Linked DNA regions of Homo sapiens. Changing the gene in region 4 together with the main gene of any one other region gives a genetic interaction. Each region holds a gene or a part of one and is shown on either strand. Other genes may lie near its edges.

What was found. Genes that interact genetically often act in the same process or in processes that back each other up.
Region 1: changes in BTF3 (region 4) and ACTR10 together harm fitness less than expected from each alone (positive genetic interaction), as found in Homo sapiens cells (one large-scale study listed by BioGRID).
Region 2: changes in BTF3 (region 4) and WDR70 together harm fitness less than expected from each alone (positive genetic interaction), as found in Homo sapiens cells (one large-scale study listed by BioGRID).
Region 3: changes in BTF3 (region 4) and CMAS together harm fitness more than expected from each alone (negative genetic interaction), as found in Homo sapiens cells (one large-scale study listed by BioGRID).

What each region holds. Positions count from the first base shown.
Region 1 is NC_000014.9:58,233,643-58,236,136, forward strand, and holds the end of ACTR10 (actin-related protein 10), read left to right. Parts: intron 1-727; coding exon 728-909; 3' UTR 910-1,994; downstream 1,995-2,494. UniProt on the Homo sapiens protein: Part of the dynactin complex that activates the molecular motor dynein for ultra-processive transport along microtubules.
Region 2 is NC_000005.10:37,718,318-37,721,817, reverse strand, and holds part of WDR70 (WD repeat-containing protein 70), read right to left. Parts: intron 704-3,500; coding exon 603-703; intron 1-602.
Region 3 is NC_000012.12:22,056,218-22,059,717, forward strand, and holds part of CMAS (N-acylneuraminate cytidylyltransferase), read left to right. Parts: intron 1-2,349; coding exon 2,350-2,483; intron 2,484-3,500. UniProt on the Homo sapiens protein: Catalyzes the activation of N-acetylneuraminic acid (NeuNAc) to cytidine 5'-monophosphate N-acetylneuraminic acid (CMP-NeuNAc), a substrate required for the addition of sialic acid.
Region 4 is NC_000005.10:73,503,805-73,506,167, forward strand, and holds the end of BTF3 (transcription factor BTF3), read left to right. Parts: intron 1-542; coding exon 543-599; intron 600-1,387; coding exon 1,388-1,434; 3' UTR 1,435-1,863; downstream 1,864-2,363. UniProt on the Homo sapiens protein: When associated with NACA, prevents inappropriate targeting of non-secretory polypeptides to the endoplasmic reticulum (ER).

The sequences.
Region 1 (2,494 bases), on a different chromosome or scaffold from region 4:
GGGGGTCCACACCCCTAATCCCTGCATTGTTCAAGGATCAGCTGTAACTACTTTGAAGGGAAAAACAATCATGAATATGTACATTTATACAGGTTCTGATATGTGTTTTATGATGCAGTTAGAGCTAGAAGGTATCAGGATTGTGCATTTAGAGAAAGAGTAGTATGACATTTTAAAATGAATGTTACATTATTTCTTGTAAAATAGAATTTGGTCAAAACGTAGTTTTGATCTAGGACAAATTGATTTAGTAATGGAATTGTTTTTAAAAGACTGCCTTGTGGGTCTTAATAAGGTCTTCAGTATAGTATGTTAGGACATTATGATGATGTTTATTGGGTTTTGCAGTACCATTTTATTTATTGATATGTAACCTTAGTTGTGAGAGAGAAAACTCAGAATCTTATTGATTGTATTTACACAAAGTTGAAAATACTTTCACTCCACTCTATCTCACTTGCTTTTAAATGCAATAATACTTGTTATCATATTCACTATTATCTGCTAAAGGCCATTTCAATTACTTTAACATGGAGTTATGGCTTACCCTGTTATTCAAAATGTAAAATAAAGAATGGCTTAACTGGAATTACTTTGAAGATTGTGGCTATGCATTGCTGAATTTTACCAGTCCACTTTTGTCATATAGTGAAGTAGATGTATGTGTACATAAAGTTTTCTGGTAAAAGTTTTCATCTTAGCTATAAAAAATATTTTTGTCACACAGGGGCTATTTTTGGAGCATTACAAGATATACTTGGGAGCCGTTCTGTTTCAAAGGAATATTATAATCAGACGGGCCGTATACCTGATTGGTGTTCTCTCAATAACCCACCTTTGGAAATGATGTTTGATGTCGGGAAAACTCAACCACCTCTGATGAAGAGAGCATTTTCCACTGAGAAATAGAAGTTTGATTAAAAATCAACCTTGCTTCATATCAAATATTTAACCAATTATAAGCAAATTGTACAAAGTATGTAGGATGTTTTGTTATAGAGGACTATAGTGGAAGTGAAAGCATTCTGTGTTTACTCTTTGCATTAATATATAATTCTTTTGACTTTGTTTCTCTTGTGTAGTGGTAAAATGGTAGCTGGTGCTTATTGAGATTTGCTGTATTTATATCAATAAAGTATAGTAAAGCAGTTTGATTTTGGAAGTTTGTTATGTGGCTTTTTTTTTTTTTTTTTTTTTGAGACGGAGTCTCGCTCTGTCACTTAGGCTGGAGTGCAGTGGCACAATCTCTACTCATTGCAAGCTCCGCCTCCCGGGTTTACGCCATTCTGTCTCAGCCTCCTGAGTAGCTGGGACTATAGGCATACGCCACCCCGCCCGGCTAATTTTTTGTATATTTAGTAGAGACGGGGTTTCACCATGTTAGCCAGGATGGTCTCAATTTCCTGACCTCGTGATCCACCCTCCTCGGCCTCCCAAAGTGTTGGGATTACAGGCGTGAACCACTGTACCAGCCTATGTTGCTTGTCTTTCAAAAAGAACAGTATTTCTCCACAGTTCACATAACCTGTTCTGGGCTCATTAATTGTGTTTCCAGCAGTTACTCCATTTAAAGCATAAATAGTGTTAACCATTACCAGTTATTTCAAATACTAACATGGGTCCATTTAAAAAAAATATTTATTTTGGTACTTGGGTGTCCATATTATAATAATGTTGTTTTTCCAGAAATATATTTGATCTTTGGACTGAGAATGTTTGGTAACATAGTCAAGCATTTGTTAAGCCAAGTGTGGAAATGTTCACTTTTTAACTTTACAGTTTTTTTAATGAGCAATTCTACATTTCTAAGAAAAAAGATACTTCATTTTTATATAAGGTTACAACTGCTTTATAAAAATGTATTCACAATGTCATTAATCTTTGCGTTTGTGCTTTATATCTTCTCAGGGCAGAGGTTCTTGAAATATGTACTCAATCATTTAACTTTTATTTTATTTTTTCATTTGTTTTTAATGAACTACCTCTTGTTGAAATTTTGCTGGCTTCATTCTTTCGGGATACCTGTGTCCTCTAGTCCTACCGCTCTTCCATAGCACTCTTTCCTTAAGCACAGTATCCATAATTGGGGCACTTCTAACTTTTACCTTGTAATCGTTTCAACAGAGGTTTTATCTTCTTTTCTGGAATATAAGCTCTCGTAGAACAAGGCTTGTCTATTTCTTAACTTTGAAACCTCCCAGGAGGATTGCCAGGAATAGGTATACTATTATTTGCCAATTGGATGGATTTACTATTTTATTAACATTATCTCTTTTTTCAGTAAACATGAACTTTACATTTATATTGACCTCATATTTTGGTGAATTTAGATTATTTATGAGAAGTTTTCATCATTGAATAATATCAAAAACAGGATCTGTGACTGAAATAGAGCTTTAAAACTAGCTATAAAGTAGCAGACAACTAGTGGCTGAAGTTAAGGAATGTAGCCCTCTGTTATAGGTTGAATTATGTCCCTCAAAAAGATAGGTTG
Region 2 (3,500 bases), about 36 Mb from region 4:
CATATCCATCTTTGTGCCTAAGCAAAACGGAAATAACTGAGGAAATGACTGAACCTCTAGTTACGTTTTCAGACTTTTGAAATACAGTGGTATGCTTAAGTTTGAAACTTGGGTGGGCATGGGGGTGGAGGGGAAACGTATCTGTGCTGTCCCTTTCTGCGGACAGAGAATAATCTTGCCAAACATCCAAACTGCTAGAAGCCAAAAAAGAAAGAAGCAAAATGGACAAGCTGATTCCATTTCCTGTAAGTGGTTAGTTCCCTGCTTTGTTAAATCTCTTACATGTATCACTGCTAATGCCTCTGTCCAGGGTGGTATGCAAAGTGGGCAGAACGTTTTTCCCCCTTGCACTCAACATTTCAGCTAAACAACTGCAAATTCCCAGGAAACTTTCGCTTTGAATTCAGTGTGGATCAAGGGCAATATTCAAATCCTTTTTAAAGCACAATACCAGGAGTTTGAGGCTTTACTTTGTTCCAGCTGCATTTTCTAAATGGGTGGATCTCCATCAAAGTGGGAAATAAATAAAAGCGGGGGTGGGAGGGAAATCCCTCCCCCCAGTTGTTGTCATCCATCTAAAACAGGCAATACTTATGAAATACCTCTGACTCTTGTTGGGGTCGTAATAGACTTTAGCCAATCCATTTCCAGTTCCAACCATGATCTGGTTCAGCTTTGGATGCCACAGGCAGCGAACAACACTCTGCAAAGGAAAAGCGCAGTGGTTGACTAAAGAGGCCAGATAAAAATGGAAACAATCCTGCTGGTACTTTGATGGCTAGTCTACTATATCAAATATCATCCTGATGGTTTACCTCTAACTTTCAGACATTTTCTTTTAAACCATAAAGTTGTGTTCCTGAAGTAAAATTCCATTCCATCACTTATTATCTGGGTGATACTCCATAAAAATAAAAAAGATGTTCTCTTCCTGACATTATCTCCCTTTCTGGACAGCCCTGAAACCACAAAATTAGGTTTCCCAGGTCCATTACCACGTGAGGCTGGCATCATGGAATGCTAAATCCACATAACTCAGTTACACTTACCACTGAAGCGAATTTCATGCTCTTACACACATACAATATGTCCCTCTGGACAGCAGATTGAGACCAGGTGGTTATTGTTTTTAGTTCACAAAGATCCAAATCTCATAAAGCTTTTTCAGAAACAATGCACATTTGTAGGCATTTAATAATGTCTCCCTATCTATGAGATAAAACAGCAGGACAACAGCAGAAGTAAAACAGAGATACAGAATACAAAGACTTGACATTAACCTAAATGAAAAGCTGTTTAAGAGAAGGTTCACTGGAAGTTATGATCCTATGAATTCATTACTGGTAAGGAAAATAAGTGGTGCTCTGGGGCTGAAAAGAACCACAAGTTCTCAGTGAGAACTATAACCTGTTTTTAATTTTTGTCTGTGGTAAGAGGGCAGAGGTGGGAGGGATAGCGTGGACAGAATTAAAGGGAAAAAAGATGAAGCTAATGTTAGTAAACAGAAACCCCATGTACTAGGTTCTATAGAACTCACTCTGATAGAACAAGATATGAGTGGAAGCATTAATTCAATGTTTATTAATAATCTATCACTTGTCAAACTATATATAGGGACTAAAGGGGAAAAGGGTATGATTAGATATTAGCATTTTATAGTTCTAGTGGTAAAATGAAAATCATGACTACGTCTCCTAAATCTACTTTGGGCTGAATTTCTTTGGTTCCTTGTCTCTACTCATTCCACTCTTTTGTTAAGACAGAATATCTTGAAATCTCTCAGATCCTTTTTGATAGAACATTGATTCCCAGCTGGGCATGGTGGCACGCGCCTGTAGTCCGAGCTACTCAGGAGGCTGAGGCAGGAAGATTGCTTGAGCCTAGGAGTTTGAGGCTTCAGTGAGCTATGATTGTGCCACTGCATTCCAGCCTGGGTGACAGAGTGAGACTCTGTCTCTTAAAAAAAAAAAAAAGAAAGAAAGAAAGAAAGAAAAAAACAAAGAAATAAAAATTCTGACTCCCATGTGAATGGCAAAAAAATAGGCCAAAAAAAAATAGGTAAATGGCTGCAAACCCTTACCTGAGATTCCAGAGGAACTAAGGAGAAAGCTGAAAAGAGTCTACAAGACTTTTATTTAATTCATATCTGATTTAACAGACTTACTCTAGAAGAGTGGTTCTTAACCTATGTACCACTGAAGAGGAATGGGATATTGTACAGAGAAAATCAAATCAGAATGGCTGTGTTTTCCCCATCAGCTGGGGGGAAAATTAAGTTAAAGGGGCAGGTTTTCACAACTTTAGGCTTGCTTTCCACAATTTTTCTCAAATCTATGGTGCCTGCTACCCAGGCTAGCAAGTTCTAAAAGATGATAAAACAAATATAATAGTGAGTAAATATTAACAGAAAAACTTGAAAAAATAAGATATATTTAATTTGATAGTTTGGGTATTTTTTGGGGGGGGGGTTGTTGTTGCTTTGTACCTATGCTTGTAAAACCTAGTTTATAATGCATACATATAAAAGTCACATTTTCTCCTAATAAAATTGCTCCTGGTTGGGAAGATGTAATTAAGTATATCAATAGCTCATGGTCTACAAAGTGCAGCTTCTAGGTGCTCCACCACTGAGACTAATTTGAGATAGACCACTGGAAATTCCCAGATGGCCACAGCCAGGTATATGGAAACATAAGGAGAGTCACAAACATAACTTCATGAAGTCATGTTTATGAAACCCTATGTAGAAGAAATCCATCTGAGCCAAGACTCATCTCTTTTAGTCTTTGCTTAAATGTCATTGCTATCTAAACCACCCAATTTAAAACTGTGCCCCAGAACTCCCCTTAGTCTGCTTTTCTTTTTTTATAGCATGTATCATCTTTTAATATAATATATAACTTATTTATTAATGATGCTGATTGTCTGCCTTCCCCACTAGAACACATATTTCATGGGCAAAGATCTCAGTCAGTTTTGTTTGGCAACATATCCCAAGTGCCTAGATTAGTGTCTGGTGCTCAAAAAATGTTCACCAAAGGAATGAATTAAAAGCTACAGTTCACCCATGCCTAAATGGATTGCTTTGCTAGGTAGAGCTGGAGACAATTTTCAAATTAAAATCATTACTCCATGAGAAATAATTTGATTTCCTCATATCATTATTATACTCAGGTATCCTACAAATGTAGCAGGGTTAGATTCCTCCTAATGTGGTCCTAGAGAGAGAGAATGTACATGAATCACAGAATAATGAAAGCGGCTGTCAAAGGCTTTCAGAAATCTCAGCCACCCATAAATGGCCCAGGACAATATTAAGGGCACAGTATTAGAGTTATTTCTCTTTCTTGGTTCTCTAGAGGTCTGGCTCAGCAGTCTAAGATTACTAGTTCTCAAATATGTTTTCAAGTGAGCAGGGTGCAGAATTGGAAAAGATCCACAATGTAGGCCTGATAAATTCCAAGACATCCAGCCAAACAGGCAGTTTCCAGGGGCAGCAG
Region 3 (3,500 bases), on a different chromosome or scaffold from region 4:
TTCCTCTAATTTAACATATTTTTGATAGCTATTTGAAAGTCCTTGATTGCAAATTTCAACATCTAGTCACTTACAGTTCTGTAATCTGCTTCTTTCTTGATTGTGAGTCACCTATTTCTGCCTCTTCATTTGGCTCATGTTTAATTGTATATCTGGCATAGACACTTGAGTACATATTTTCCTCCAGAGAGGGTACACCTTTTCTTCTATCAGGAAGATAGGATAAGGGGCTGATCACTTTGATTCAATTAGGAGTTGGGCTGGGTTGAAACTTTAATTTCATCTCACCTCTTAGTATAGGTGTCTTATTAGGAGATACATCTTGTATGTGTTACTGACACTCACACCCATACCCTACTCTTGCTAACAAGACTAAGGGATCTGATGACCACAATACTATTATGATGTCTCCCTGCTTTCCAGCCCATTCCCAGCTTCCCACCCAGTACACTCAGCCAAAGTCTTGTAAGGGGGAAGCATTAGGTGGGGAAAAACGAGCTATATGTTTGTGGTTCCTACAGATGACAATCTGTAACTCAAGTCCACAAGGTCATTGAAAGCCCTTCTAGTTTTTGCCTACCTCAGCAGAGTCCCTCTGATTATGCAAAGCTTGATCTTTCTTGTACCTTCTCCTCATACTCAGCAGATATGACCAGGGAGAAAGCAGCCACCGATACTAGGAAAGATTTGTCCCTCTCTTTTCTTCAAAGTACCACTTGAATTATCTAGTTGGTTTATTACCTGTCTCTACCCCTAGATTGTATACTTTTTGAGAATAGAGAGAGTTCTGGTCACTACTCTGTAGCCAGTGCCCATAAAGCTATGTTATCTCTAGCTATTTAATTTGTATTTGCTAAGGTTTTTTCCTGGGTTATTTCAAACACTGGGGTGGAATTGAACAGGGGATGATTTCGTTAAACAAGTAAGTAGAGGTTATTCCTAGAAGCCTGTATAAACACAGAAATGGCAGCAAAAAGTGAAGAAAGATTCTGGAGAGTAACCAGCTATTACACACACACACATACACACACACACACACACACACACACACACACACAGATTTGAGGAAAACTCAGTGGAAAGGCAAAGGAATCTCTACATGACAGTACCAAAGTCTTCATTGATTACATTATGTTCTATTCATTAATGTTGACATTACTGAGCCTTTATTATCAGGTATACTCATAAACATAATTTATTATTATGTTTAGTATATTTTTAACTAATGGTAAGAATGTATAATATGTTACATAAACATTTTCATCAATATAAAATCTTCAATAATTTAATGGAGAAATCTTTACTTTTCAGCAATAATTGTATAAAAACAAGTTCTCAACCACATTAGATAAATAAAACTTATTTCTGTATATGCAAACAATGAGAACTAGATTAAAGGGCCCAAATATTAATATAGGTATTTTATGACAAATTCAGTTCTTTTAAAGCTACTTTAAGGTTGTCTTGATGTCCTCCCAAAGCATAATATTTGTATGAATACCTTAATTGTTCCACATTTCATTATAAAATACTTTAGTTTTCTAGTAGCTATTGGAAAGCAAAGATAAATCATCAGAATTATTACAGATTTTATTCCTTTAAAAAAGTTCTTTTTTTTTTTTTTGAGACAGAGTCTCACTCTGTTGCCCAGGCTGGATGGAGTACAGTGGCGCAATCTCGGCTCACTGCAATCTCCCCCCCCCGGGTTCAAGCGATTCTCCTGCCTCAGCCTCCCAAGTAGCTGGGATTACAGGTACCCACCACCATGCCCGGCTAAATTTGTGTTTTTAGTGGAGATGGCGTTTCACTATGTTGGCTGGGCTGCTCTCGAACTCCTGACCTCAAGTGATCCGCCCGCCTTGGCCTCCACAGTGCTGGGATTACAGGCGTGAATCACCACATTCAGCCTAAAAAAAGTTCTTTATCAGGCCGGGTGCAGTGCCTCATGCCTGTAATTCCAGCACTTTGGGAGGCCGAGGTGGGCGGATCACGAGGTCAGGAGTTCGAGACCAGCCCGGACAACATGGTGAAACCCCATCTCCACTAAAAATACAAAAATTAGCCAGGTGTGGTGGTGCATGCCTGTAGTCCCAGCTACTTGGGAGGCTGAGGCAGGAGAATCGCTTGAACCCAGGAGGCGGAGGTTGCAGTGAGCCAAGATCGCACCATTGCACTCCAGCCTGGGTGACAGAGCGAGACTCTGTCTCAAAAAAAAAAAAAGAAAAGTTCTTTATCTAGATAAAGAAATGCTCTGCATTCTGAGTTCATTTTTATTAACTTTTTTAGTTACTAAATTAACACTTTCTATATTCAGGGCAACGTGGACTTACTCTAACTTTTTGCTTTTAGTTCGTGAAGTGACCGAACCTCTGAATTTAAATCCAGCTAAACGGCCTCGTCGACAAGACTGGGATGGAGAATTATATGAAAATGGCTCATTTTATTTTGCTAAAAGACATTTGATAGAGATGGGTTACTTGCAGGTTTGTACCTTCATTTTGCATAACCCTTTTAAGCGCTTTTGTAGGCATACTTTGAGTTCTAGGGAAGAAGTATGGTACAATTTCTTTATGATAAAGAAAAGTATCAACCTATAGAGGAAAGGTAATAGCCAACAACATTTGCTATCTGAGGCATTTATCCTGCAGGTTTACCCCAAAGTGATCTTTGGAATCCATTCAGTAAATATGCAAGGAATTCTGCTACAACGATAAAAAAATGAATCAAGTACTGGGTGTCTACACATGTCCTGGTACTCATATTATTCCACTCAAAACTACGTAATCCATGTTTGTGTTATAGTTATATTGTGGCTGTAGGGTTGAATAACTTCTATTGCTTTAAAAAGACAAATAATTTCATAGAGGTGAAAAGAGTTACAACCTGGGTGTCAGGAAACCCGGAATCTTTTTATATATATATATATATATATTTTTTTTTTTTTTTATTATACTTTAAGTCAACTGCCTCTTACTATGTAAGCTTGAATATGTATCATTTTATCTGTCCTGACTCTCATTTTCAAATAACAGATTTAATGTCTCTCTCATTTTAGAGCCTGCAACATGGTTGCATCATATATTTCTTAACTTGTTAATTTTAGTTATCATTATTATTTATTATTTACTGTGTACTTCGGAGTAGGTGAAACACTTTGCATATGTTATCTTATGTAATCTGCATAGCGAATGAATGAAGTGGACATTTCTACCCAGTTTTACAGAGGAGGAAAACTGCCTCACTGAAATATGAAGTAATTGACTCAAGGCAAAAACAGCTAATAAATGGTACTGTCAGGATTTGGATTCAGGTTCTTATGTTACTCAAGAAATAGCGGTTTTAAAGAGAGAGAGAGAAACCTCTCCATTGTGTAATAAAAATTCTAATGGGACTATTATTCTGAGCAAAAGAGAGAAAAACATTTTTACAAATCTTCTGGTCAATGTGTAGGCAAACTATAGACTAGCTGTTTAGTTAAATTTAAGTGTTCAGAAAAATTG
Region 4 (2,363 bases):
TCCCACTGATGCCTGTATGGGCCTAGTACATAACTCTCCTGTGTACGTTCATATTCTTGTGTGATAAAGGAGAGTGGATGCTTACCACTCACAGACTCTTTAATTTTTTTACTTTAACTTTTTTCATTTCAGTAAGTGGTTGTTGAGCATCACCCTTATGCCACACACAGAGTAGTTGAGAAAATGGCATCTTCATTTGTCTCCCAAAATCTCACCATGATTTGGTATGTGGGTTTTACCTGCACTCTAAGAGTTCCCTACTGCCCTTATACTACCTCAGGGCCTATGGTGGCCCAGAGGGATTGAAAGGATGGGTATGGAATTTTGTTTGTTGGCTGTTCCTAGTATTTTAACCCATTTGTAGACATTAGAATATCATGTTATTGATAGTATCATAGATAAAATCCCAAATGTCCCTTATCATGGAAATAAGTTGTAACAACACTTGGCATTTCATCTGTTCTTTTTTTTTTTTTTTTTTTTTTTTTGGTGAATATTTATTAAAAACCTAGACAAATAATGTTTACATTTTCCTTTCATAGCTGTGGATGGAAAAGCACCACTTGCTACTGGAGAGGATGATGATGATGAAGTTCCAGGTAGGAACGTTTACTTGTGGTTAACCTAGAGAATCTTAGCAAGGGAGAATAAGAAATCTTTGTAGGAAAAACTACCCAGGGAAGAGGGGTGGTAAGTTAAGATGGACATAGATCTTACTTAGAATGAGAAAAATAATGCAGTATTAGGTAATTGAGAATTATGTTTATAGACTTGACTTGGCTTGTTTCTGTTTGGGATCCCAAGGATGTGTAGGTATCTAACCTTAAATATTGAATAAATAAGTATATATATATAGTACCCTAAATATAACTATTACCTGCAGAGCACTAATGACCCTTGCTCCCTACTTTGAAACTCATGAATTTACAAGAAGGTGTGGAGTTGTTCAGGTATCTTGGGATATATATATGCATTCTAAAATCTGTAGCAGCATAACTCCTTTGGGAATCATGAGACATTTTTGTCTCTTACCTGTTATTGGATAAATTTACGTTCTTCTAAAATATTTATTGGGCAGGAGAATCACTGGACTCATAAATATTCCCACTTTGCATAGACAGGTATCCTTAGGAATCCAGGAAAATTTTAACATTGTGTGTCATTGTATTCTTTGGTTCTGCTCCCCCACTATTGACCAATGTATGAGATGGGAAGAGGGGGGCATTTTTTTCACTTTTTTTTTTTTTTGCATTCTTGTTCTTGGGGCTATGACACAGTATTTATCATCATTGGCAAATGAATGTCTTTCCTTCATCCCCTTTTAATATCTGATAATTATTTGTAGATTTGGCTTTTTTAAGAATTTCTACTCTTTTCCTTTTCCTAGATCTTGTGGAGAATTTTGATGAGGCTTCCAAGAATGAGGCAAACTGAATTGAGTCAACTTCTGAAGATAAAACCTGAAGAAGTTACTGGGAGCTGCTATTTTATATTATGACTGCTTTTTAAGAAATTTTTGTTTATGGATCTGATAAAATCTAGATCTCTAATATTTTTAAGCCCAAGCCCCTTGGACACTGCAGCTCTTTTCAGTTTTTGCTTATACACAATTCATTCTTTGCAGCTAATTAAGCCGAAGAAGCCTGGGAATCAAGTTTGAAACAAAGATTAATAAAGTTCTTTGCCTAGTATACAGTTTTATTTTTTTATTTCATTGACACCGATCTGTACACAGTAAAAAAAATTGCTTATAGAAAGCTAATCATGGCATGTAATATGGCTGATAACCTTTGGAATTTGATTAAAGATTTAAAATCACGGTGTAGTGTAACAAAGGTGGTATAAAGTTCTCAGGTTTGAAAACTTTGCTCTCCAACAGTCCTTAGTGCTTCCATGATTTATATGGTGGGTGTAAATATGAGAATAGAGTATTCCTTAGTGGATAAACAGACATTTCTCCCTGATATTCTCTATTGTAAGCATATGTTAAGTGCCTTTTATGAATTACCTCGGTGTTATCTCCTTTATTCCTCAATTTGTGAAGAACTAATAGCTCCATTTTGTAGATGTAACCTGAGGTTTAGAACTTCTAAAAAGTAAAAGTAATCTCCAGATCCCTTCTTTGTAGGATATTTTATAAGGTGACTTGGAAAAGGTAGTGTTTAGAATAGGAGTGGCTCCTGGGTCATTGTCTTTTCCTTAAGTGTCAACACTAATAAATGAATAGGGTTATGTTTTTATTTAATAAAAAATATACAGTAAAATTGAGCATATACAGTTAAAAGAATTTATAATGTCTGCCACTATAATCAGGTTACCAGACAGTTTCATGGTCCCAGAAAATCCCTAAACATAGGGTTACT